Homo sapiens: one gene and its partners. The protein of the gene in region 1 purifies or fractionates together with the protein of each later gene. This does not show direct contact. Each region holds a gene or a part of one and is shown in the gene's direction. Other genes may lie near its edges.

Region 1 (4,973 bases):
TATAAACTGAAATAAATGATTACCTGTGCTTTGGTGACAGAAAAAATAAAAGACATATTCTCTAACTTATAAGCCAAAAAGGAAGACATATTTCAAAATTTGATTTATTTTTCTTTTTTCCTTTATGTAAGCATAGCTGAACATTTTCAACCATGTATGAAGTAGAAGGTTTTGCTGTTACTGTTATAATTTAACAGAAATTTATGAGTCTCCTAAAAAAGCACAGCAGGAACACAGAAATAATTGAGAAATTGCCTTTAGTCTCATGAAGTTAACTCAAGGTTGAATAAAATGTTGCCTTCCCACTAGGCTTGGAACTTTGCATCCTTAGACTCTAATGCAACATGCCATATTAAATATTTCATTTTACAGATGAGGAAACTGGTATAGACAGGTTTAGTAATTTGCATAAGGTAGTAAAGCTGGAAAATGGTGGAAATGGTGGAAATGGTATGTGAGTCCATGTGAGTCCATCTCTAACTCCTCTCCCATTTTCCATTATATCATGCTGCACATGCCTTTACAACTTTCTTGTTTTTGTTATTGTTCCCATTTGTTTACCTTGCTTCATTATTTGTTACTATTGGTTATTCTTTCCATCTTGGAACCCTCTAGTTTTGAGTTTTGTAAGACTGTACTTCCCTGTTTCCCCTCTCAGTATTCCACATCCTTTTCTTTTTCTTTTTGTTTCTATTTTTTGAGACAGGGTCTTACTCTGTCACCCTGGTTGGAGTGCAGTGGGCTATCTTGGCTCACTGCAGCCTCTGTCTCCCAGGCTCAAATGATCCTCCCACCTCAGCCTCCTGAGTAGCTGGGACTGTAGGCAGATGCCACCACGGCTGGCAAATTTTTGTATTTTTTCATAGTGACAGGGTTTTGCCATGTTGCCTGGGCTGGTCGCAAACCCCTGAGCTCAAGCAATCCACCTGCCTCAGCCTCCCAAAGTGCTGGGATTACAGACCCGAGCCACTGTGCCCGGCCATCCTTTTCTTTACATACAAGTGTCTCCCAGGTTCTCTCTTCAGATCCTTCCTTTCTCCATGCTCACCTGCTTGGCATCATCCACTCCTATTGCCTCTGGACTTGCTGCGATGCTGATGACTCTTAAATCTACTTCAGTCATTTGCTCTCTTTACTGAGTGTAGATCTGCATTTCCAGCTGCACATCAAACACATCTAGGACGTTTTTTCACATGCGTCAGTAGAACTTCTTCTTTTTCTTTTCTTTTCTTTTTTTTTTTTTTCTGAGACAAAGTCTCGCTCTTGTCCCCCAGGCTTAAGTGCAATGGTGCGATCTCAGCTCACTGCAACCTCCGCCTCCCAGGTTCAAGCGATTCTCCTGCCTCAGCCTCCTGAGTAGCTGGGATTACAGGCGCCTGCCACCACGCCCAGCTAATTTTTGTATTTTCAGTAGAGATGGGTTTCACCATGTTGGCCAGGCTGGTCTCGAACTCCTGACCTCAGGTGATCCGCCCGCCTCGGCCTCCCAAAGTGTTGGGGTTACAGGTGTGAGCCACTGCGCCTGGCCTCTTCTTTTTCTTTTCTTTTCTTTTGAGACGAGTTTCACTCATGTTATCCAGGCTGGAGTGCAGTGGTGCAATCTCGGCTCACCGCAACTTCTGCCTCCCGGGTTCGAGTGATTCTCTTGCCTCAGCTTCCTGAGTAGCTGGGATTACAGATGCCCATCACCATGTCTGGCTAATTTTGTATATTTAGTAGAGACGGGGTTTCTCTGTGTTGGTCAGGCTGGTCTCAAACTCCCGACCTCAGGTTATCTGCCCGCCTCGGCCTCTCAAAGTGCTAGGATTACAGGTGTGAGCCATCGCGGCCAGCCAGATAGAACTTCTTGTAATTGAACTGGTCTTTTCCTCAAAACGTCATTTTCCCCCTATTTCAGTTGTTTTGTTAATGGTATCTAGCACTGTTGCCTACTTTAGTCATATTTGGCTATCTTCTCTCCCTCATCTCTCTTTATTCACTGTCACCTGTTCCTTCCAGCTCTGTAATTTTTAGCATACTTCTCCTTTTTTCTGTTTTCTCAGCTATTATGCTAGTTCCAGATTCTATTAGTAACATTATGCCTGGCCTTTGACATACATTAATAGCATACATGACTTCAAATCATTCTGTATGTCACCCATGCAGAAGCCCACAATGTCTACTCTACTTATAGGACTCTAACATAGCATTTAATATTCTCTTGATTTTCCTAACCTTCCTTTTTAGCTTTATCACCCTCAAATCTTCTTCATATGCCTTTATGCTTCACCCCAACTAGGTTACCTGCTAGTCTCCAAATATGTCCTACTGCTTCTGTCTTTCATGTTATGGCTTCTTTGTTTTTTTGTTGTTGTTGTTATTTTTGGAGATGGAGTCTCTCACTCTTGCCCAGGCTGGAGTGTAGTGGTGTAATCTTGGCTCACTGCAACCCCCACCTCCCAGGTTCAAGTGATTCTCATGCCTCAGCCTCCAAAGTGGCTGGGATTACAGGCGCCCGCTATCATGCCCAGCTAATTTTTGTATTTTTGGTAGAATATTTTCAGTAATCTAGTAATTTAGCCTGGGTGAAAGAGTGAAACTCTATCTTTAAAAAAAAAAATTAATCTTCAACAAGTATCTAATTAGCACCTCCTAGGTATACAAATGCTTTGCACTATAGTGAATTTAGCATTTAGTAATTTAGTATTTTTAGTAATTTTGTATTTTAGTTTCACCATGTTGGCCAGGCTGGTCATGAACTCCTGACCTCATGATCTGCCCGCCTCAGCCTCCCAAAGTGCTGGGATTACAAGCGTGAGCCACCACACCCATCCTCCTTTTCTTAAAAATTTAGTCTTCAGCCGGGCACAGTGGCTCATGCCTGTAATCCCAGCACTTTGGGAGGCTGAGGCGGGCTGATAACCTGAGGTCAGGAGTTCACGACCAGCCTGGCCAATGTGGTGAAACCCCATCTCTACTAAAAATACAAAAAATTACCTGGGCATGGTGGCGGACGCCTGTAATCCCAGCTACTCGGGAGGCTGAGGCAGGAGAATCACTTGAACCCGGGAGGTGGAGGTTGCAGTGAGCCGAGATCTCGCCATTGCACTCCAGCCTGGGCAACGAGAGCTAAACTCCGTCTCAAAAAGAAAAGAAAAGGAAGGAAAAAGCATACCACCTATGTGGGAATACCATGTATATATTTTTAGTTATATACATGTAATCTGCATTCCAGTCTTTGATTTGTTAAGGAAATTTTGTTTTCTAGAAGCCAGAGGTTCTAGAATAGAATGTCATATAGGTATATATTTTTAGAAGGTTTTAGGGTTGTAGAATAATTGAATGTTACAGAAGAAAATCTTATTGATTTCAATGTAGTATTTGTTTTGTGAGCATTTTGTCACCTAAAGGGTGTTCTAGATGTATCAAGTACTCCCAGTGTACACTTGACTTCGGGTCTTTTGATTTTACCTGACATCTGAAATCACAAGTCTTCAGGCAGCTCCATACCTCTCTTGTGTCTCATTAGTATATTATTTTATCTAAGTTGCCATTAACTTGAATTTCACTTTTTTTTTTTTTTTGAGGCAGAGTCTCGCTCCATTGCCCAGGCTGGAGTGCAGTGGCATGATCTAGGCTTACTGCAACCTATGCCTCCCAGGCTCAAGCGATTCTCTTGCCTCAGCCTCCTGAGTAGCTGGTATTACAGGTGCACACCACTACTGACCGGCTAATTTTTTGTATTTTTAGTAGAGACGGGGTTTCACTATGTTGGCCAGGCTAGTCTTGAATGCCTGACTTCAAATTATCCACCCACCTCAGCCTCCCAAAGTAGTGGGATTACAGGCATGAGCCACCATGCCCAGCCTCACATTTCTTCTTTAGCTCTTGTTTCATGCTGTGTCCTGTGGAAAAATAATTTGGACCTTTGGTAAATTTGCCTTAATATCCAGGTTTTATTCTCATAGAAGTCGTGAAAAACATTTGTTATTTAAAAACAGAGCAGGGGTTAGGTGTGGAAGCTTATGCATATAATCCTGGGACTTTGGGAGGCGAAGACTGGAGGATCACTGAGATAGGAATTCGAGACTAGCCTGGGCAACATAGCAAGACCCCCATCTCTACTAAAAAATTAGCTGGACGTGGTGGTGTGTGCCTATAGTCCCGGCCATTTGGGAGACTGAGGCAGGAGGATTGGTTGAGCCCAGGAATTCAATGCTGCAGTGAGTTATGAAGGCGTCACTGTACTGGGTAGGTCCATAGTTTGTTTTTTCCTTTCAAAGGATGTCCTTACACTACTGTTGATAGAGTGATGCCTTATCTCAAAAACAAAACCAAGCAGAACAGCAACTTTTGTGAAAAAAAAGTAACCTTTTAAATAACTTTTTTTGTGTGTGTAAATCTATACATAGTTTTGAGTGGACATTTGTTAATTCCTTTGCTACCATCCATTCCCTTTTGCTTCCTTCGTTGGTAGGCTATGTTCTTCTCTCATTTTCAACCCTTTGGATTCTCATTCCTAACTCTAGGGTACCATGATTAACTTAATCTACTTTATATTTATTTATTTATGTTGAGACAGGGTCTTTCTCTGTTGCCCAGGCCGGAGTGTGGCAGTGCAATCACAACTCACTGTAGCCTCGACCTCCTGAGCTCCCACCTCAGCCTCTCGAGTATCTGATACTACAGGCTCACACCACCACGTTTGCCTAATTTTTTTTTTTTTTTTTTAGAGACAGCATCTGCCTATGTTGCCCAGGCGGTCACGAGCTCTGAGGCTCAAGCGATCCTCTCGCCTTGACCTCCCAAAGTGCTGGGATTACAGGCGTGAGCCACTACTTCTGGCCTAGATTAGTCTACTTTAAATCCTCCTAACTGCTCCCCACCTCACCTCCATTCCTGCGCAAGTTACATAATGCTAGTGAGTGCTTCTGGGAAAGAAAAGTTTTCTCTTTCTTTCTCTAGAGCTACTGAAAGAGACCCTTTCTTTCCTT
Region 2 (4,973 bases), on another chromosome or scaffold:
GGGTTTCACCATGTTGGCCAGGCCGGTCTTGAACTCCTGACCTCAAGTGATCCACCCACCACTGCCTCCCAAAGTGCTGGGATTATAGGCGTGAGCCACTGTGCCCAGCCTGCTTGTTTTTGTATCATATATATGCATCATCATAATCATGCATTATCAACCTTTGTATTTCTGTCAGGACATAGAAACCATTAGAGTGCTTGGAAGAGAGCCTTTTTTTTTTTCTCGCATTTAATGCTTTTTTTGGTATTCATTTCATAATCAGCTTACCAAAACATTACCTGCATTATACCCCATCAAGGTAGAAATCTTTGTGTTATCAATATTGGTTACTCCCTTTCCACACCGAGTCATCAGTAAGTCCTGTTCTATCCAAATAGGTCATATGCATCTAGCTCACCCCTCAGTGCTGTTTTGTTTTGAATTTGTACATGTTTACTCCTGATGCCTTGTAGTTATGATGATGTGTTCTTATTTTATTCTGTGCATACAAGTTCTCAGCTCGCTTTTTAGGGAAAATGACCATGTCTTCCTTTCCTATAAATTCCTTTCTATCTATCAAGTCCTCAACAGAGAATAGGTACCCATAAATATGTGATTGTTAGTTTCTTTGCCTCAGTTGTAGTCTGATCCTTACAGCTTTTAAACAACAGTAGAGTTCACCGTCAAGAACTAAGGATGGTTGGCAGGCAGATAGAAAGGTAGCAAGTTGACCCAACTATCTCTGGGGAAGTGGGAACAAAGAAAGGTTACATCAGCACTGTCATCACATAGCTCTATAGTTCTAGGCCTGCAGGCTCAATCAAGTAGCCTTGTATAAGATTCTCTGGAGGAGGTGCTGAAAGTTGCTTATACTTGCTATGGAATTTGATTTTACTTCGGATATCTTTTTACCATAGGTACTTCTCCCTCCAAGCCACACATCCTCTTGGATTTGATGATGTTGTACGATTAGAAATTGAATCCAATATCTGCAGGGAAGGTGGGCCACTCCCCAACTGTTTCACAACTCCATTACGTCAGGCCTGGACAACCATGGAGAAGGTAACCCAGAACTTCAAACGTATCAAACTACAAGAAGTTTTATTGGTAGAACTCATAAAATATAAGGTGGGAAAACCAAGCAGAATAGCACAGTGGAAATTGAAGCAGTCCAGCAAAGTGATTAAGAGCAGAGGCCTTGAGTCTGGCCTGGTATGTACAGTCACGTGCCACATAACATTTTAGTCAACAGTGGACTGCGTGTACGATGGTCCTGTACGATTATAATGGATCAAAGCTGGTAGTGCAATAATAACAAAAGTTAGAAAAAATAAATTTTAATAAGTAAAAAAGAAAAAAGAAAAACTAAAAAGATAAAAGAATAACCAAGAACAAAACAAAAAAAATTATAATGGAGCTGAAAAATCTCTGTTGCCTCATATTTACTGTACTATACTTTTAATCATTATTTTAGAGTGCTCCTTCTACTTACTAAGAAAACAGTTAACTGTAAAACAGCTTCAGACAGGTCCTTCAGGAGGTTTCCAGAAGGAGGCATTGTTATCAAAGGAGATGACGGCTCCATGCGTGTTACTGCCCCTGAAGACCTTCCAGTGGGACAAGATGTGGAGGTGAAAGAAAGTGTTATTGATGATCCTGACCCTGTGTAGGCTTAGGCTAATGTGGGTGTTTGTCTTAGTTTTTAACAAACAAATTTAAAAAGAAAAAAAAAATTAAAAATAGAAAAAAGCTTATAAAATAAGGATATAATGAAAATATTTTTGTACAGCTGTATATGTTTGTGTTTTAAGCTGTTATGACAACAGAGTCAAAAAGCTAAAAAAAGTAAAACAGTTAAAAAGTTACAGTAAGCTAATTTATTATTAAAGAAAAAAATTTTAAATAAATTTAGTGTAGCCTAAGTGTACAGTGTAAGTCTACAGTAGTGTACAATAATGTGCTAGGCCTTCACATTCACTTACCACTCACTCGCTGACTCACCCAGAGCAACTTCCAGTCTTGCAAGCTCCATTCATGGTAAGTGCCCTATACAGATGTACCATTTTTTATCTTTTATACTGTATTTTTACTGTGCCTTTTCTGTATTTGTGTTTAAATACACAAATTCTTACCATTGCAATAGTGGCCTACGATATTCATTATAGTAACATGTGATACAGGTTTGTAGCCCAAAAGCAATAGGTTGTACCATATAGCCAAGGGGTGTAGTAGGCCATACCATCTAGGTTTGTATAAGTACACTCTGTGATGTTAGCACAATGGCAAGCAGCCTAACGGAAATTCTGTTTATTGATTGATTGATTGATTGATTGATTGAGACAGAGTTTCACTCCATTGTCCAGGCTGGAGTGCAGTTGCACAGTCTTGGCACACTGCAACTTCTGCCTCCCAGGTTCAACCAATTATCCTGCCTCATCCTCCCAAGTAGCTGGGATTACAGGCAGGCACCACCATACCTGGCTAATTTTTGTATTTTAGTAGAGACAGGGTTTCACCATTTTGGCCAGGCTGTTCTCGAACTCCTGACCTTAAGTGATCTGCCTGCTTTGGCCTCCGAAAGTGCTGGGATTACAGGCATGAGCTACCATGCCTGGGCAGTAACTGAAATTCTCTAATGCCATTTTCCTTATCTGTAAAGTGACGATAATATGCACGTTTACCTCAAAGTTACTTTGATGATTAAAGTAAGGTAATGTATATAAAATACATATTAACATAGTACCTGACACATGGTAAGCATCAAAAAATGTTAACTACTTTTATTACTATTATTATTACGTATTTTTAAATAATTAGAGAGCAGTATCAAAAATTAGCTGGGCGTAGTGGCATGCACCTATAGTTCCAGCTACTCAGGAGGCTGAAGCTGGAGGATTGCATGAGCCTGGGAATTAAAGGCTGCAGTGAGCCGTGTTCATGCCCCTGCACTCCAGCCTTGGTGACAGAGCAAGACCCTGTCTTGAACAATTAAAGAAGGCATTATGCCGCAACGTTAGCTTAGAAATGATCCACATATATCACCAGTAACTGTCAACAGGATTGGAACCCTAGTTTTGGGTATTATGATCACAAGGTATTATTAATAGCTTATTAATAATAAAGCGTTGGCTAGGCACGGCGACTCACATCTGTAATCCCAGCACTTTGGGAGGCCGAGGTGGGTGGATCACCTGAGGTCAGGAGTTTGAGACCAGCCTGACCAACATGGAGAAACCCCATCTCTACTAAAAATACAAAATTAGCCGGGCGTGGTGGTGCATGCCTGTAATCCCAGCTACTTAGGAGGCTGAGGCAGGAAAATCTCTTGAACCCGGGAGGCAGAGGTTGCAGTGAGCTGAGATCGCACCATTGCACTCCAGCCTGGGCAACAAGAGCAAAACTCCGTCTCAAAAATATAATTATAATAAATAAATAAAAGTAAAGTATTGATGTTTGTGAATGATTTATTCTTCTAATGAACTAGAGGAGATTTTTCCAGGAATTTCAGAGCCAGTGAGGTTATGTTGCTTGTATGTGTCATGTGTATCCAGGTGAAAAAACTTAATTAAACGCTATTATATAATACCATACATAAAAACTGAATTTTAGGAATACTGAAGAATGACATATAGAAGTCAAATCATTAAATAGCTAGTAGTAAACAGAATAGAGTGTCAGCTGTTACCCAATGATGATAATATTTTCACGATTAAAATTAAACCTTTTCTGATTTTAAAGGAAAAGTTCAGATCTGTATCATATAAAGAATGTAAATTTTCAGGGTAATAAAATTAAAATGCAGAGAGAAAAATGCAAAAATAGTTCTTACTAGATGTGTGTATGTAAGGAACTTAGACTAATTTTAAGAACACTGTCAAGACCCTGGTAGTTAGGTAGGAAAAAAGACATGAATGATTCATTCAACAAAAACTTTGAGTATTTCTGTGCTAGATGGTAGTGTTACAGTGGTAAACAAAATAAATGTGTTTCTGCTATCCTGGAGCTTAGTCTACAAAAAAGGTACATATTGGCCGGGCACGGTGGCTCACGCCTGTAATCCTAGCACTTTGGAAGATCGAGGCGGGTGGATCACCTGAGGTCAGGAGTTCAAGACCAGCTTGGCCAACATGGCGAAACCCCGTCTCTACTAAAAATACAAAAATTAACTGGGTGTGGTGGCGGACACCTGTAATCCCAGCTACTCGGGAGGCTGAGGCAGGAGAATCACTTGAACCTGGGAGACAGAGGTTCCAGTGAGTCGAGATCATGCCACTGCATTCCAGCCCGGGGGACAAAAGCGAAAATACGTCTCAAAAAAACAAAAACAAACAACAAAGGCACGTATTAAATACGAACATAAATATTTACAAATTATACTGAATAAGTTCTCATGTTTATTATTTGCTTGTCCAGTTACAAACTTTTCCTTCGTAGAATTAGAAATATAAATAATAAACATGAGAACTCATTCAGTATAATTAATAATTATTAAATGTAAATAAAAACATCTATGTACAATTAGGCATTTATTTAAGAATTATTTGAAAAAAAAACAATGTGGAAACAGATATTTTGATATATTGCTAGTGATTGAAATTGATAATGTTCTTTTGAAGAGTAAAGTGACCATATATATTAAAGTTAAAATTTAACTCAGCAATCACACGCCTGGTGAGTTATCTTAAGGAAATCAGTTTGAAAGTAAAATCAATATATGCACAAAGACTTTAACATTTATCATAAACCAGAAAAATCGAGTTTCAAATTATATCCTATGGACTATTTTCTGCTAAAAAGTATTAATATCAACTTTATGTAATACTTTCGTGACAAATATTTTGGGGGAGAAAACCCAACAAAATTACATGCATTGTAATTTTTTTTTTTTTTTTTTTTTTAGACAGTCTTGCTCCAGCGTCCAGGCTGGAGTGCAGTGGTGCAATCTCGGCTCACTGCAACCTCCATCTCCCAGGTTCAAGCAATTCTCCTGC
Region 3 (4,973 bases), on another chromosome or scaffold:
GTCTTTATGTCTATAATCAACTCTATTTTTTTATGCTGTGTATTCCTGAGGCTAGGGACCATAGCAAATATTCAGATTATAGATAATAAAGGGCTTCAAAAACTATAAAATCGATAGGCATTTTGGACATTATAACACTCGATCTTAATTCCATCATCTTTTTTGGCAGGCAGTTCCCTGTTGAGGTATGGTATGAGGGCTGGGTAGATAAGAATGTTCAGCCACCTACTGGACTCCCCTGACACTACCCTGGCAAAAGTGGAGCACTGACTCATACCGCCTCACACTGCAGACAGGGGAGGTGGAAGTTCAGCTTCCCCCTTGGTCCTGTGTCATCTTCTTGGTGAAAGTAGGACACAGTTGCACCACCTGACTTGCATCACCTCATTGCCTTCTAGTGGCGTTATAAGCTTGGTTCCCTGCTGACTGACACCTGGGAAGGGGTGGTGGGCACCTCAGGGCACCTCTTTGTGCCTGTCACTGCCAGGTGGGGATGGAAACTGAGCTCACTGCTAGATCCTGTGACAGTACCCTACTTAACCTGGTCAACCCCACTGGGTAGGGGAATGGGAGTGCTGCTGCCGGCTTCCATGGGAGCGGGGTAGATGATCACCTCCTGTTCAGCCCCACTGAAACCATGGGGGAGGGGAAGTAACAGTTTTTCTGTTGATGTCTACTGGTATAGGGTGGATGTTGCCAAGATTTCTATTTTGTGAGCTACTTCTTTCTCAGTCTTTGGGCTAGGGGCAACAGACTTTACTGGGAGTTTTGTTTTGTTTTGTTTTTTAACTCTGTTCCTGTTAGCAGTTTTGTGTTGGAGGCTTCTGCAGTGTCCTGTCCAGGACATGTGGGAGGCAATAAGGAAATCCAGGAACTCATTGCTGTGTTGTTTTTTAAGTCCTGAGGTCCTTAAGTGGTCCACCACCTTCTTTCCATCATTCCAAGTCTTACTATGCTTGTGGTGTCAATGACTTTTCAGTTGTAAACAGAAGGACCTAGGAGCAATGGGACTACTCTTTCTTGGCCAAAACCAGAAGTCATGTCCTTTTTTCAAATGGGGAGGCTAACCCTTTTAATCAATTATCAGTGAAAGCAGCAGCAGCATATATGTAAATAAATATATATATATGTGTGTATATATATGTGTATATATATGTATATATGTGTATATATGTGTATATATGTATATATATGTGTGTATATATGTATATATATGTGTATATATGTATATATATGTGTATATATGTGTATATATGTGTGTATATATATATGTATATATATGTGTGTATATATATATGTGTATATATATGTGTGTATATATATATATGGGTCTTGCTCCACTGCCCAGGCTGGAGTGCAGTGGAGCAATCATGGCTTACTGTAGCCTTGAACTCCAGGGCTCAAGCAATCCTCCCACCTCAGCCTCCTGAGTAGCTGGGATTACAGGCACGAGCCACCATACCTAAATTAAATTTTTTGTACAGACAGAGTCATGCTGTGTCACCCAGGCTGGTCTTAAACTCCTGCGCTCAAGAGATTCTCCTGCCTCAGCCTCCCAAAGTGCTGGAATTACAGGTGTGTACCACTGCACCTGGCCAAGGCAGTGATTTTCAAACTGAATTAGCTTAGGTGTCAACTTTTTTTTCCTCCAAAGTTCTTGTTAAGGTGTCTACTTAATTTTTATTTTTTATTTATTTATTTATTTTTTGAGACGGAGTCTCCTCTGTTGAAGGCTGGAGTGCAGTGGCGTGATCTCGGGTCACTGCAACCTACGCCTCCCAGGTTCGAGCGATTCTCCTGCCTCAGCCTCCTGTTTAGCTGGGATTACAGGCATGTGTCACCACGCCTGGCTATTTTGTATTTTTAGTAAAGACAGGGTTTCATCATGTTAGCTAGGCTGGTCTTGAACTGCTGAGCTCAGGCAATCCACCTGCCTCGGCCTCCCAAAGTGCTGGGATTACAGGTGTGAGCCACCACGCCCGACCTCTTAATTTTTCTTTTTAAAAAAGAGTTTTGAAGACAAAATAAAAAACTTGAACATGATTTCTCTAGCACACTCCACTAAAAATTAAATCCAGTACTTGTTTTTCCATGCCTGTCTTTCACAGCTAGACTTTGATTCATTGGGAAGCTGGGACTCTATTTCTGTTTTTCTAGCACTTGAACATGGCCAGCATGTGGTACCTGTTCAGAACATGTTTGTGAAGGGATGGAGTCATTTATGCAGCTCCATCTTCTCTGCCCTTGTAGTTCCTTTACTCCATCCTCCATCTTAGGGAGTTTTTTTCTCTTGCTAGGTATCCTGGATACAGCCATCGTTGATCGGGGGAGGAATGTGGTGTCTGCTTCTCGAGATGGGACAGCACGACTTTGGGATTGTGGGCGCTCAGCCTGCTTGGGAGTCCTTGCAGATTGTGGTTCTTCTATCAATGGAGTGGCGGTGGGTGCTGCTGACAACTCCATAAACCTTGGCTCCCCTGAGCAGATGCCCAGTAAGTTGATAATGATATGTAGCATTGTTTTATTTTCTTAGGCCCCCTTCAGTGATTGCCTTAGTTTCTCCTTTTCTTCCTCATCCTTTTCTGCTCTGTGCCTGGTATTTCTGTTTTCACCATACGATTAATATTTACTCTGTACCTACTATGTTTCTATTACTTTGGAATCTACAAAGGAAGTATATGTCATAGCACTGCGTTTCAGTAAGTACAATCTAATGTAGAAGATGAGATAAATGCCTATAAAGCAGGGGTGTCCGATCTTTTGGCTTCCCTGGGCCACATTGGAAGACTTGTCTTGGGCCACACATAAAATACACAACATTGATGATAGCTGAGCTAAAAATAAATAAATCTCATAATATTTTAAGAAAGTTTATGAATTTGTGTTGGGCCTCATTCAGAGCCACCCTGGGCTGCAGGTTGGACAAGCTTGCTTTAAAACATTTAGAGAACAGTAACATTTGGCTGAAATAATTAGTGATTCTTTTTATTTATTTTATTCTTTTAGCGATAGAGTCCTGCTGTTTTGCCCAGGCTGGCATTGAACTCCTGGGCTCAAGTGATGCTCCCACCACAGCCTCCCTAATAGCTGGGACTACAGGCCTGCACCACCATGCCTGGCAAATTAGCAAGTCCTAATGCAAATATAATAGGTTTTCAGAGGGACGGAGTGTTCCCGGTTAGTATAGATAGGAAAGATGTCACAAAAGAAGTTGGCTTGAACCTTTAGAGGATAAGTTGAAGTTGAACAGACAGTAATTGTAAGGATAGGACAATGGGAGCTAGGGCAAGGGGTAGGTGTAGGGGCAGTTTGCATTATAGCTTGGACGTGAAACTAAGTGTTATATAAAAAGATATGTTTGACTGGGCTAGAAAGTTGAATTAAGAGGGGTAGTAGTAGGAAATGGGTTGAATAGCTGTGGTGAGAGACTAATAAAGGTCCTAATAAGGCAACTTTCCTTCTTATTTTCCCATAATAATAGTTGCATCTCTGTTCCATAGGACAATGTTTTTTCTACTGTTGTCTTAGCCCCTCACATTTTAAAAAATAGCCCTTATTTTTTAGGGCCATTTTAGGCTCACAGCAAAATTTAGCAGAAAGTACAGGGGACCAGGTGCAGTGGCTCACGCCTGTAATCCCAGCACTTTGGGAGGCCGAGGCGGGCGATTCACAAGGTCAGGAGCTCGAAACCAGTCTGGCCAACATAGTGAAACCCCATCTCTACTAAAAATACAAAAAATTAGTTGGGTGTGGTAGTGTGTGCATGTAATCCCAGCTACTCGGGAGGCTAAGGCAGGAGAATCGTGTGAACCTGGGAGGAGGAAGTTGCAGTGAGCTGAGATCGCTCCATTGCACTCCAGCCCAGGCGACAGTGTGAGACTCTGTCTCAAAAAAAAAAAAAAAAAAAAAAGTACAGGGAGTTCTTATATACCTTTTGCCTTACCCACTCACACATAGCCCTCCTCACTATCAATATCCCCCACCAGAGTGGTACATTTATTACAGCTGATGAACCTACGTGACACATTATTGTCACCCAAAGTTCAGAGTTTACATTAGGGCTTACTCTTGGTGTTATATATCCTATAGGGTCTGACAAGTGTACAGTGACATGTATTTACCATTGCAGTATCATACATAGTAGTTTCTTAGCCCTAATAATCCTCTGTACTCTGTTCAAGCAGTTCTCCTGCCTCTCACCCTCTCGAGTAGCTAGGACTCTAGGCATGCACCACTACACCTAGCTACTTTTTTTTATTTTTGTAGAGACAGGGTCTCACTATGTTGCCCAGGCTGGTGTTGAACTCATGGCCTCAAGTGATTCTCCCATCTTAGCCTCCCAAAGTGCTAGGATTACAAGCATGAGCCACAGCTCCTGGCCCTAAAGTAATTTAAATGAGAATATTTTTTCTTGTTTTCTGTAATTTTTCATTTCCCATTTACTCTTCAACCCATTCTAGGATGGTTTGTGCCCAAGTACTTGACTGAAATGGCTGTTGTTAAAGTCACCAGTGACCTTCCTTTTTTTTTTTTTTTTTTTGAGATGGAGTCTCACTCTGTTGCCCAGGCTGGAGTGCAGTGGTGCGATCTCTTGGCTCACTGCAGCCTCCACCTCCCAGGTTCAAGTGTTCGAGTGATTCTTGTGCCTCAGCCTCCCGAGTAGCTGGGATTACGGGTGCCCACCACCATGCCTGGCTAATTTTTGTATTTGTAGTACAGATGAGGTTTCACCATGTTGGCCAGGCTGGTCATGAACTTCTGGCCTCAAGTGATCCACCCTCCTAAGCCTCCCAAAGTGCTGGGCTTACAGGTGTGAGCTATGGGCCCCAGCCACCAGTGACCTTCTTCTTGCCTAATCCACCTTGTTTCTCTGTGCTTGTCTTTCTGAATTCAGTGGTATTTCACATAGTAAACCCTCTCCTCAAAAAACTTTTTTTTTTCATGGCTTCTGTGATACCACATAACACTGGTTT
Region 4 (4,973 bases), on another chromosome or scaffold:
AAGCATAAATAATGTGACTGACTGCAAAAATAAAAAATGTAAATATGAGTTTCCTAACATAGTAGACAAAATGTTCAATCAAAAATCATCTGTCATACCAAGAATCAAGTAAATCACAACTTGACTGAGAAAAGGCAACTACTGCCAACATTAAGATGAGTTCGATGTTGGAATTATCTGACAAGGATTTCAAAGTAGCCATCATAAAAATGCCTCAACAATCAATTAACATTATCTTAAAACAAATAAAGAAAAAAAAGGAAACTTGCAGAAAAGAAAAAGAAGTTATAAAAATATAAGAAAGAAGGAAATTCTGTCATTTGCTACAGCATGAATGAACCTGGGGGACATTATGCTAAGTGAAGCAAGCCAGACACAGAAAGACAAACACCACATAATCTCACTTATATGTGAGATCTAAAAGAGTTGAACTCAGAATTAGAGTAGAATGGTTACCAGGGACTGTGGCTTGGAGGGAGTGGGAAATGGGGAGAAGTTGACCAAAGGGTACAAAGTTCCAGTTAGACAAGAGGAATAAGTTTTTAAGACCTATTTTGCAGCATGCTCACCATAGTTGATAATAATGTATGTGCATTTCAAAACTGCTAAAAGCATAAGATTTTAGTCTACACATTGGGTACAGTGTACACTGTTCGGGTAATGGGGGCACCAAAATCTCAGAAATCACCACTAATGAACTTATCCACGTAACCAAACATCACCTGTTCCCCAAAAAAGTATTCAAAAAAATAATAGATTTTAAATGTTCCTGCTATGAAAAAAACAAAACGAAACAAAAGATAGGTAGGCCAGATGTGGTGGCTCATGCCTGTAATCCCGCCACTTTGGGAGGCCAAGGAAGGTGGATCACTTGAGCTCAGGATTTCGAGAAGAGCCTGGGCCACGTGGTGAAACCCTATTTCTACCAAAAATACACACACACACACACACACAAAATTAGCTGGGCATGGTGGCATGTGCCTGTGGTCCTAGCTACTCGGGATGCTGAGATGGGAGAATTGCTTAAGCCTGGGAGGCAGAGGTTGCCGTGAGCCGAGATCACACTACTGCACTCCAACCTGGGTGACAGAGTGAGACCCTGTCTGAAAACAAAACAAAACAGAACAAAAAACAAAAAAAAGGATAAATTACGTGAGGTGATGGATATGTTAATTAGCTCGATGTAATTATTCCACAGTGTATGCATATATTAAAATATCACATTGTATCCCATAAATATATGCAATAATTATTTGTTAATTAATTAAAATAAAAATTAAGTTAAAAACAAGAATTTAAAAAATACATACTTTGCAATTATCTACTATTTTTCTAAAGACCCTTACAATCTATAGGCTCTTTCTCAGTTTTCTTTTTTCCCCCTTGGAATTATTTTTTGAATAAAACTGGCTTGTTTGTCCCCTCCCCCCAAAAAACAAATATAAATTATAGAACTGTAAAATAAAATAACAAAAATGAAAAACTGGCTGATGGACTCAATAGAAGAGCAGAGATGACAGAAAATAGAATCCATATCTGGTGAAACTATCCTTCAGGAATTAAGGGGAAATAATTAAATTCTCAGTTGAAGGAAAACAAAAAGATTTGTTGCTAGCAGACATACTGTTAAAAAATAGCTAAAGGGATTTCTTCAAACAGAGAATAAATGATAAAGAGCAATCAGGAAGGATGAAAGGACAACAGAAAGAGCAGAAATGTAAGTACATAAAGTAGACTATCTTTTAACTCATGAGTTCTATAAATCATATTTGATAATTGAAGCAAAATTATAACACCATTTTATACTCTAGACAATGATATTTAAAAGTGGGGAAGGTAAAGGAAACTAAATGGAAGTGAGGTTTATACACTTCAATCAAAGTGGTAAAATATTGATATGAGTAGACTGTTATGACTCACACATGAATGTTGAATACCCAGAGAAACCACTGGGAAAACTCTACAAAGATATATATTTTAAAACACTATGAATAAGTCAAGATGGAATCATAAAAAATGCTCAAGTAACTATCAGAAAAGCAAGAAAAGGGAAACAGAAGAATAAGAACTAAAGGGAACAAACAAAAAACAAATAATAAAATAGCAAACAAGAATAATATATCAATAATTACATTAAATAATTATATTGAATGCGAATACCACTACAGTAGTCCCCTTTTATCTGTGGTTTTACTTTCTGAGGTTTCAGTTACCCATAGTACAGTATAATAAGATATTTTGTGAGAAAGAGTGTGAGTGTGTGAACACAATCACATAATTTTTACTCCAGTACATTGGTATAATTGTTCTATTTATTAGTAGTTATCATTGTTAATCTCTTACTGTGCCTAATTTATAAATTAAACTTTATCATAGGTTTGTGTGTATGGGGGAAAAATATATATAGTATACATAGAGTTCAGTACTATCCATGGTTTCAGGCATCCACTGGGGGTCTTGGAATATATCTCCCTGGAATAAGGGGGAACTACTCTATATGCTATTCACAAGAAACTCACATTAAATTTGATGACATAGGAAGATTGCAAGTAAAAATATAGAAAAAGATGTACCACATAAGTATTAATTTTTCAAAAATCTGGAGAAGCTTCATTAATATCTGATAAAATAGTCTTCAGAGCAAAGAAAGTTAAAAGAGATAAACAGAGACATTACCTAATGATAAATGGATCAATCCAGCAGGAGGATACAATGATCCTTAATGGGTACACACCAAACAACTATGTCTCAAAATTCATGAACAAAAACTGATCAAGCTAAAAGAAGAAAGAGACAAATCCACAATTATAGTTGGGAAATTCAATACCCCCTCTCAGAAATTGATAAATCTACTAGACAGAACATCAGTAAATATAGGGAAGATCTGAAAAAGACAGTCAATTAACAGGATCCAGTTGAATATTTTTACGATTTTATATTGGTTTTTCCATAGTGGTTTTAAATTATATCTCTTTGTATAGAAAACTCCACCCAACAACAGCAGAACACACTTTTTTTTGGCACCTACAGAACATTCACCAAGATAGATAATGTGCTTGGCCGTAAAACAAACCTAAACAAATTTAAAATAATTGAAATCATACAGAGTATATTCTCTGACTACAATGCAATGAAACTAGAAATCTGTAGCAGAAAAGTATCTAAACACGTGGAAATTAAACAACACTGTTCTAAATAATCCGTGGATCAAAGAGGAAATCTCAAAAGGAATTTTTTTAAAAATGCGTAGAACTGAATGCAAATGAAAACACAACATATTGAAATATGTACCATGTAGATAAAGCAATTCTGAGAGAGAAATTTCTAACACTAAATGTTTACATTGGAAATAAAGGAAGGTCTTAAGTCAATAACCTAAATTTCTACATCAAGGATCTAGAAAAGAAGACCAAAATAAACCCAAAGCAAGCAGAAGGAAGGGAATAATAAAGAGCTGAAATCAATGAATTTGAAATAGAAAAACTATAGGGAAAAATTAATAACACAAAAATTTGCTTTTCTGAAAAAAAAATCAGTAAAACTGACAAACTTCTAGCAAGACTAATAAAAAGAGTTAAGACCCAAATCACTAATATCAGAAATGAAATATGGAATATCACTATAGATCCTGCAGTCATTAAAAATATAATGAGAGAATATTATGAACAATTATACATTCATATATTTGACAACTTAGAAAAAAATTGGCCAATTTATCCAAAGCAGCAAACTACTAGAACTCACCCAATATGAAATGGATAATCTGAATAGCTCTATAACCATTAAAGAAATTGAATTCATAATTTTAAAAGCTCCTACAAAATAAATCTCCAGGCCTAGATAGCTTCAGCAAATAATTCTAGCAAACATTTAAAGAATTATTAAGATCAGTTTTACACATTCTCTTCCAAAAAATAGAACAGGAGGAAACACTTCCAACTCATTTTATGAGGCCAGTATTATCCTGATACCAAAACCAGACAAAAACAGTACAAAAATAGAAAACTACAGGCCAATATCTCTCTCATGAACTTTGACACAAAAATCCTTAGCAAAACACTAGCAAATTGAATCCAACAATGTATGAAAAGAATTATACACCATGACCAAATGGGATTTATTTCAGGTTTGTAAGGCTGGTTCAACATTCAAAAAGCATTCAGTGTAATCCACCATATCAACAGGCTAAAGAAAAAAAAATATGATCATATCAACTGATGCAGATAAAGCATTTGACAAAATCCAATACCCATTCATCATTAAAACTCAGCAAGTTAGGAATAGAGGGTGTATTTGTTTCCCAGAGCAGCTGTAACAAATTGCCACAAATGGGGTGGCTTAAAGCAAGAGAAATTAATTCTCTCACAGTTCTGGAGGCCAAATGTTTTAAATCAAACTGTTGGTTTCTTCTGAGGTCTCTGAAGGAGAATCTGTGCCATAAGTCTCTCTTAGATGGCTGCTGGCAATTCTCGGTATTCTTTGGCTTATAGATGCATCATTCCAGTCTCTGCTTCTGTCTTCACAGAGCCTTTCCCTTTGTGAGTCTCTGTGTTAAGCCTCCCTCTCCGTTTTCTTATAAGGACAACAGTCATTGAATTTAGGGTCTGCTCTAAATCAGTGATTATCTCATCTCAGGATCCTTAATTACATCTGCAAAAACCCTATTTCTAAATAAGGTCACATTCACATATACTGGAGGTTAGAAATTGAACTTATCTTTTTGAGGGACACAATTTAACCCCCTACAGAGGAGAATTGCCTCAACTTGATAAAAACACCTACAAGTAACCTACAGCCAACATTATACTTCATGGTGAAAGACTGAACGCTTTTGCCCTATGATTGGAAACAATGCAAGGATGTCCACTCTCATCTCTCTTATTCAACATAGTACTGGAAGTTGTAGCCACTGCAATTAGGCAATAAAAATAAATAAAAGGCCTACAAATTGGAAATGAAGAAATAAAACTCTC
Region 5 (4,973 bases), on another chromosome or scaffold:
GTTTCTACAGAGTCTTGGTTCCTCTCTCTGGCTTCTTTTCTATTCCTTCTTCTGAATCTTGTAAGAATTTGCATTACCCTGCTTATTGCCAGAATGTCTTTGTGTTAATGCTTTATCTAACTGTCTGCTGAATTCTCACCTCCCCTCTGAGATCAGTGCCAGACCTCATCAATGGTATCATGATTCTTTCCCTAAATTTGCTAGCATTTGGTATGTACTACTTTGTATGTCACTAAGCCTTCCACCTTTTCTAAAAGAAGACCGTCATTATTGTATGCCCCCTAAAAAATACAGAAATGAATTATGTATTTGTGGTTTGCTGCTAATTTTAAAGTCTTTAGAGAGCTTAGAAACAGCATAACTAAAGTGAGGTATTAAGGAGGAAAAAACAAAACTTTCACCTGCAATAAAATAAAATGTAATTTTAGGAAAATATAAGTAGATGATGACACTAATGATTAAAAATTTTGATCAGTCTACATTTCTACATTTCAATTATTTTAATGCATTTTGTATTTTTCTTCTTTTACTGTTTTTCTCATATATCAGTGAGCCAAGTACAACTCATCACATCAAAAGGAAATGGTGAAAAGCCACTTACCATGGATGAAATAGAGAACTTTAGTCTCACTGTGAATCCATTAAGTGACAGACTTTCCCTCCTAAGTACCAGCAGTGAGACAATTCCAATGGTTGTGTCTGATTTTGATCTTCCAGACCAACAGATAGAAATACTTCAGAGTTCTGACTCGGGATGTTCACAGTCCTCTGCTGGGGACAACTTGAGTTACGAAGTTGATCCTGAAACCGTGAATGCCCAAGAGGATTCTCAAATGCCCAAGGAAAGCTCCCCAGATGATGATGTTCAACAGGTAGTATTTGACCTGATATGTAAAGTTGTAAGTGGCCTCGAAGTGGAATCTGCATCAGTTACATCTCAATTAGAAATTGAAGCTATGCCCCCAAAGTGCAGTGATATAGATCCAGATGAAGAGACGATTAAAATTGAAGATGACTCCATTCAACAGAGTCAGAATGCTTTGCTGAGTAATGAAAGTTCTCAGTTTCTGTCTGTGTCTGCAGAGGGAGGCCATGAGTGTGTGGCAAATGGAATCTCCAGGAATAGCTCCTCACCTTGTATTTCAGGAACCACACACACTCTTCATGACTCTTCTGTTGCTTCCATAGAAACCAAATCTAGACAAAGGAGTCACAGTAGTATTCAATTCAGCTTCAAAGAAAAATTATCAGAAAAAGTTTCGGAGAAGGAAACAATAGTTAAGGAGTCAGGTAAACAACCAGGAGCAAAACCTAAAGTAAAACTTGCCAGAAAAAAGGATGATGACAAGAAAAAATCTTCAAATGAAAAACTCAAACAAACCAGTGTATTCTTCAGTGATGGTCTGGATTTAGAGAACTGGTATAGCTGTGGAGAGGGAGACATTTCTGAAATTGAGAGTGACATGGGTTCTCCAGGATCTCGAAAATCTCCCAATTTCAACATTCATCCTCTCTATCAACATGTGCTCCTGTATCTCCAGTTGTATGATTCATCCAGGACTTTGTATGCTTTCTCTGCCATCAAAGCCATCTTGAAAACTAACCCTATAGCTTTTGTAAATGCCATTTCAACTACTAGTGTAAATAATGCATATACTCCTCAGTTGTCTCTCCTTCAGAATCTATTGGCCAGACACCGGATTTCTGTTATGGGCAAAGATTTTTATAGTCACATTCCAGTGGACTCAAATCATAACTTCCGGAGTTCTATGTACATAGAAATTCTTATTTCTCTCTGCTTATATTACATGCGTAGCCATTACCCAACTCATGTCAAGGTTACTGCACAAGATTTAATAGGCAATCGAAACATGCAAATGATGAGCATAGAAATTCTGACACTACTCTTCACTGAGCTGGCAAAAGTAATAGAAAGCTCAGCGAAGGGTTTCCCTAGTTTTATTTCTGATATGTTATCTAAGTGCAAAGTTCAGAAAGTGATTCTTCATTGTTTGCTGTCATCTATCTTTAGTGCTCAGAAATGGCATAGTGAAAAAATGGCAGGTAAGAACCTGGTTGCTGTGGAAGAAGGTTTCTCAGAGGACAGCCTTATTAATTTCTCAGAGGATGAATTTGACAATGGCAGCACGTTGCAGTCACAACTTCTTAAGGTGCTTCAGAGGCTGATTGTTCTAGAACACAGAGTAATGACTATTCCTGAAGAGAATGAAACAGGTTTTGATTTTGTTGTATCTGACTTAGAACACATCAGTCCCCATCAACCCATGACTTCTCTTCAGTATTTGCATGCTCAGCCAATCACATGTCAAGGCATGTTCCTCTGTGCAGTGATACGAGCTTTGCATCAGCACTGTGCATGTAAGATGCACCCACAATGGATTGGTTTAATCACATCTACTCTGCCTTACATGGGAAAAGTTCTGCAGAGAGTGGTTGTTTCTGTGACACTACAACTGTGCAGAAATTTAGATAATCTAATTCAGCAGTACAAATACGAAACAGGATTATCTGATAGTAGGTAAGAGGTGATTTTTAACTTTATTGGTACTGACATTTTTCACATATATGACTGCTTAATGTCTGGAAAGTTGGTCACAACTTGAGTAAATAAAGTAATGGTTTTTGGTAGGTTACAAATAGTGTATTACTTTCCACAAAAAAGAAAATTTGACTTGAGGAAGAGTATCAGTAAAAGAATCTAGAATGGAAAAGGGAAGGAATATTTAAACAGGCTTATTTTCTACCAAGATCTAAAATTAATTTCAATGCTCTTCTCTTCTTGCCTGAGCTGGCAAAACTAATGGGAAGCTTAGAAAAGGGTTTCCCAGGTTTTGTCTGTTTTATCTAAGTGCAAATCAATTTCAGACTGAAAATAATTTAAATTTACAAATCTTTTCCATCCAATTTTATTTCTTGTTTTGGATTTTCATGGTTTAGTGACAAAATTCGATCTGAGTCTCTATGCTCAAAATGAAGTCTGAAAAATTAGTTCCAGTAGACTGTCATTTTTCTTCAGAATAACCTTAGTTTCTACATGTAAAATAATAAGAAAACTGCCTGTATTGTTTAATATTAATATGCCTGCCATTCCTCAGTGGCTAGAGAGTCACTAGCCATCATTTGTTTATTTTGTATAGAATTCTTTAGCCAAAAAGAACTCTAGTACATTTAGTCCAACTCACTTATTTTATAGATTAGGAAATAAAAGCCCCTGATTTATTCTTTTAGCCATTTGTTAATCTAGTATTTATTGCACATCTTCTGTGTACCTGACACATTGTGAGTATTTACTAGTGATAAAATATGAACTATACTATCATAAAACTTGTGTTTAAATGAATGCATTTTACTTCAGGCCTCTGTGGATGGCATCAATTATTCCACCAGATATGATTCTTACTCTTTTGGAAGGGATTACAGCCATTATCCATTACTGTTTGTTGGATCCAACTACACAGTATCACCAAGTAAGACTGCACAAATATTTGACTTCTTTTGAAAGACTGTGAGGTCTAATAAATTTCCATTTGTAAATCTCAGTAAGTAATATGTTTCTTTTCCCCCAACTGTTAATAGCTTTTGGTCAGTGTAGACCAGAAACACTTGTTTGAAGCACGCAGTGGAATCCTCTCAATCCTTCATATGATCATGTCCTCTGTGACACTGCTTTGGAGCATACTGCATCAAGCTGATTCTTCAGAAAAGATGACTATTGCCGCATCCGCATCTCTTACCACTATTAATCTTGGAGCTACAAAGGTTAGACAATTCATATTTAATCTGTAGAGCTCAAGAGTCTGAGGACCTTCCCAAAGATTATATTCAGAATATGTGAATAATTTGTGTAGTATTTACAGGACTCTGCTAATTATCAAATAATTTTTAACAGTTTTCCTGGGCTATGGCTGACGTATCATAGAATTTGCCCATTTTTAAGTATACAATTCAGTAATTTTTTTAGTAAATTTACAGAGTTGTGAACTATCACCCCAGTCCAATTTTTGAATATGTTCTTTACCACAGATTCCTCATGGCCATTTGCACTCACTCCCTGTTCCCATCCCTAATCCCAATCAACCACGAATCTATTCTCTCCATATATTGATTTGCTTTTTCTGAAAAAGTTCATATAAATGGAATGATAACAATATTTGGTCTTTTGTGTCTAGCTTCTTTCACGTGACATATTTTTAAGGTTCATTCATACATGTTATAACTTTATTCCTTTTTTTTTTAGGGCATTTTAAATTGACATTTTAATATGCAAAGCCCTCCTAGAAAACAATTTAGCAATATGTATAGAGAGCTTTAAAGGTTTCATAGTCTTTGACCTAGTAATCTACTTTAGGAATGAATTCTAAGGTAATTGAAATTATACAAAGATGTATATACAAAGTGTTCATTATAGTATTATTTAATGGCAGAAAAAACAGAGATCCTAAACAATTAATTAGGGAATGTTTAAATTATCCTTTCAATGTTTCATTACATAGCCACTAATATTCATGGTTTTGAAGAATTCTTATTGGATGGAGAAGGGCTCAAAAGCTCAGTGAAACAGGGATGTTACATAATTGAACAAATACCATATTTTCAATTATGTAAAAAATGTTATCTGCAGAAAAAGGAATAAAGAAAGTTTGCATTTTATCAGTAATTATCTCAGGATGGTGGGATAACTTATTGATTTTTAAATTTTTTTTCTTCCTTGCACTCTGATATTTTCCAAATGCTGTGCCATGTCAAGCTGTCAAATTGATATCCTTCAATAACCTAATTTTGCTCCTAGACCAGACCACCTGGATCAGGGATCCAAGGGAACACATAGGGAAGTGGGAAAAGGGTAAGGGTGGGAACCATTAGAACATTTGATCTAAGTTTTGATGCTTGGATTAAACTATACTTTTTATGTTTCGTTTTACTTAAATAAAACAGAAGGTGTTTTATAATTA

Evidence for each region.
Region 2: the proteins of MON2 (region 1) and AKAP10 purify together in Homo sapiens (tandem affinity purification; one large-scale study listed by IntAct). This does not show direct contact.
Region 3: the proteins of MON2 (region 1) and PAAF1 fractionate together in Homo sapiens (co-fractionation; one large-scale study listed by BioGRID). This does not show direct contact.
Region 4: the proteins of MON2 (region 1) and VSIG1 purify together in Homo sapiens (co-immunoprecipitation; one large-scale study listed by IntAct). This does not show direct contact.
Region 5: the proteins of MON2 (region 1) and DOP1A purify together in Homo sapiens (co-immunoprecipitation; one study listed by IntAct). This does not show direct contact.

Annotation. Positions count from the first base shown.
Region 1 is NC_000012.12:62,472,890-62,477,862, forward strand, and holds part of MON2 (protein MON2 homolog), read left to right. Parts: intron 1-4,973. UniProt on the Homo sapiens protein: Plays a role in regulating membrane trafficking of cargo proteins. Together with ATP9A and DOP1B, regulates SNX3 retromer-mediated endosomal sorting of WLS away from lysosomal degradation.
Region 2 is NC_000017.11:19,932,357-19,937,329, reverse strand, and holds part of AKAP10 (A-kinase anchor protein 10, mitochondrial isoform 1 precursor), read left to right. Parts: intron 1-899; coding exon 900-1,044; intron 1,045-4,973. UniProt on the Homo sapiens protein: Differentially targeted protein that binds to type I and II regulatory subunits of protein kinase A and anchors them to the mitochondria or the plasma membrane.
Region 3 is NC_000011.10:73,907,102-73,912,074, forward strand, and holds part of PAAF1 (proteasomal ATPase-associated factor 1), read left to right. Parts: intron 1-2,297; coding exon 2,298-2,492; intron 2,493-4,973. UniProt on the Homo sapiens protein: Inhibits proteasome 26S assembly and proteolytic activity by impairing the association of the 19S regulatory complex with the 20S core.
Region 4 is NC_000023.11:108,051,510-108,056,482, forward strand, and holds part of VSIG1 (V-set and immunoglobulin domain-containing protein 1 isoform 2 precursor), read left to right. Parts: intron 1-4,973.
Region 5 is NC_000006.12:83,136,624-83,141,596, forward strand, and holds part of DOP1A (protein DOP1A), read left to right. Parts: intron 1-549; coding exon 550-2,539; intron 2,540-3,376; coding exon 3,377-3,488; intron 3,489-3,597; coding exon 3,598-3,780; intron 3,781-4,973. UniProt on the Homo sapiens protein: May be involved in protein traffic between late Golgi and early endosomes.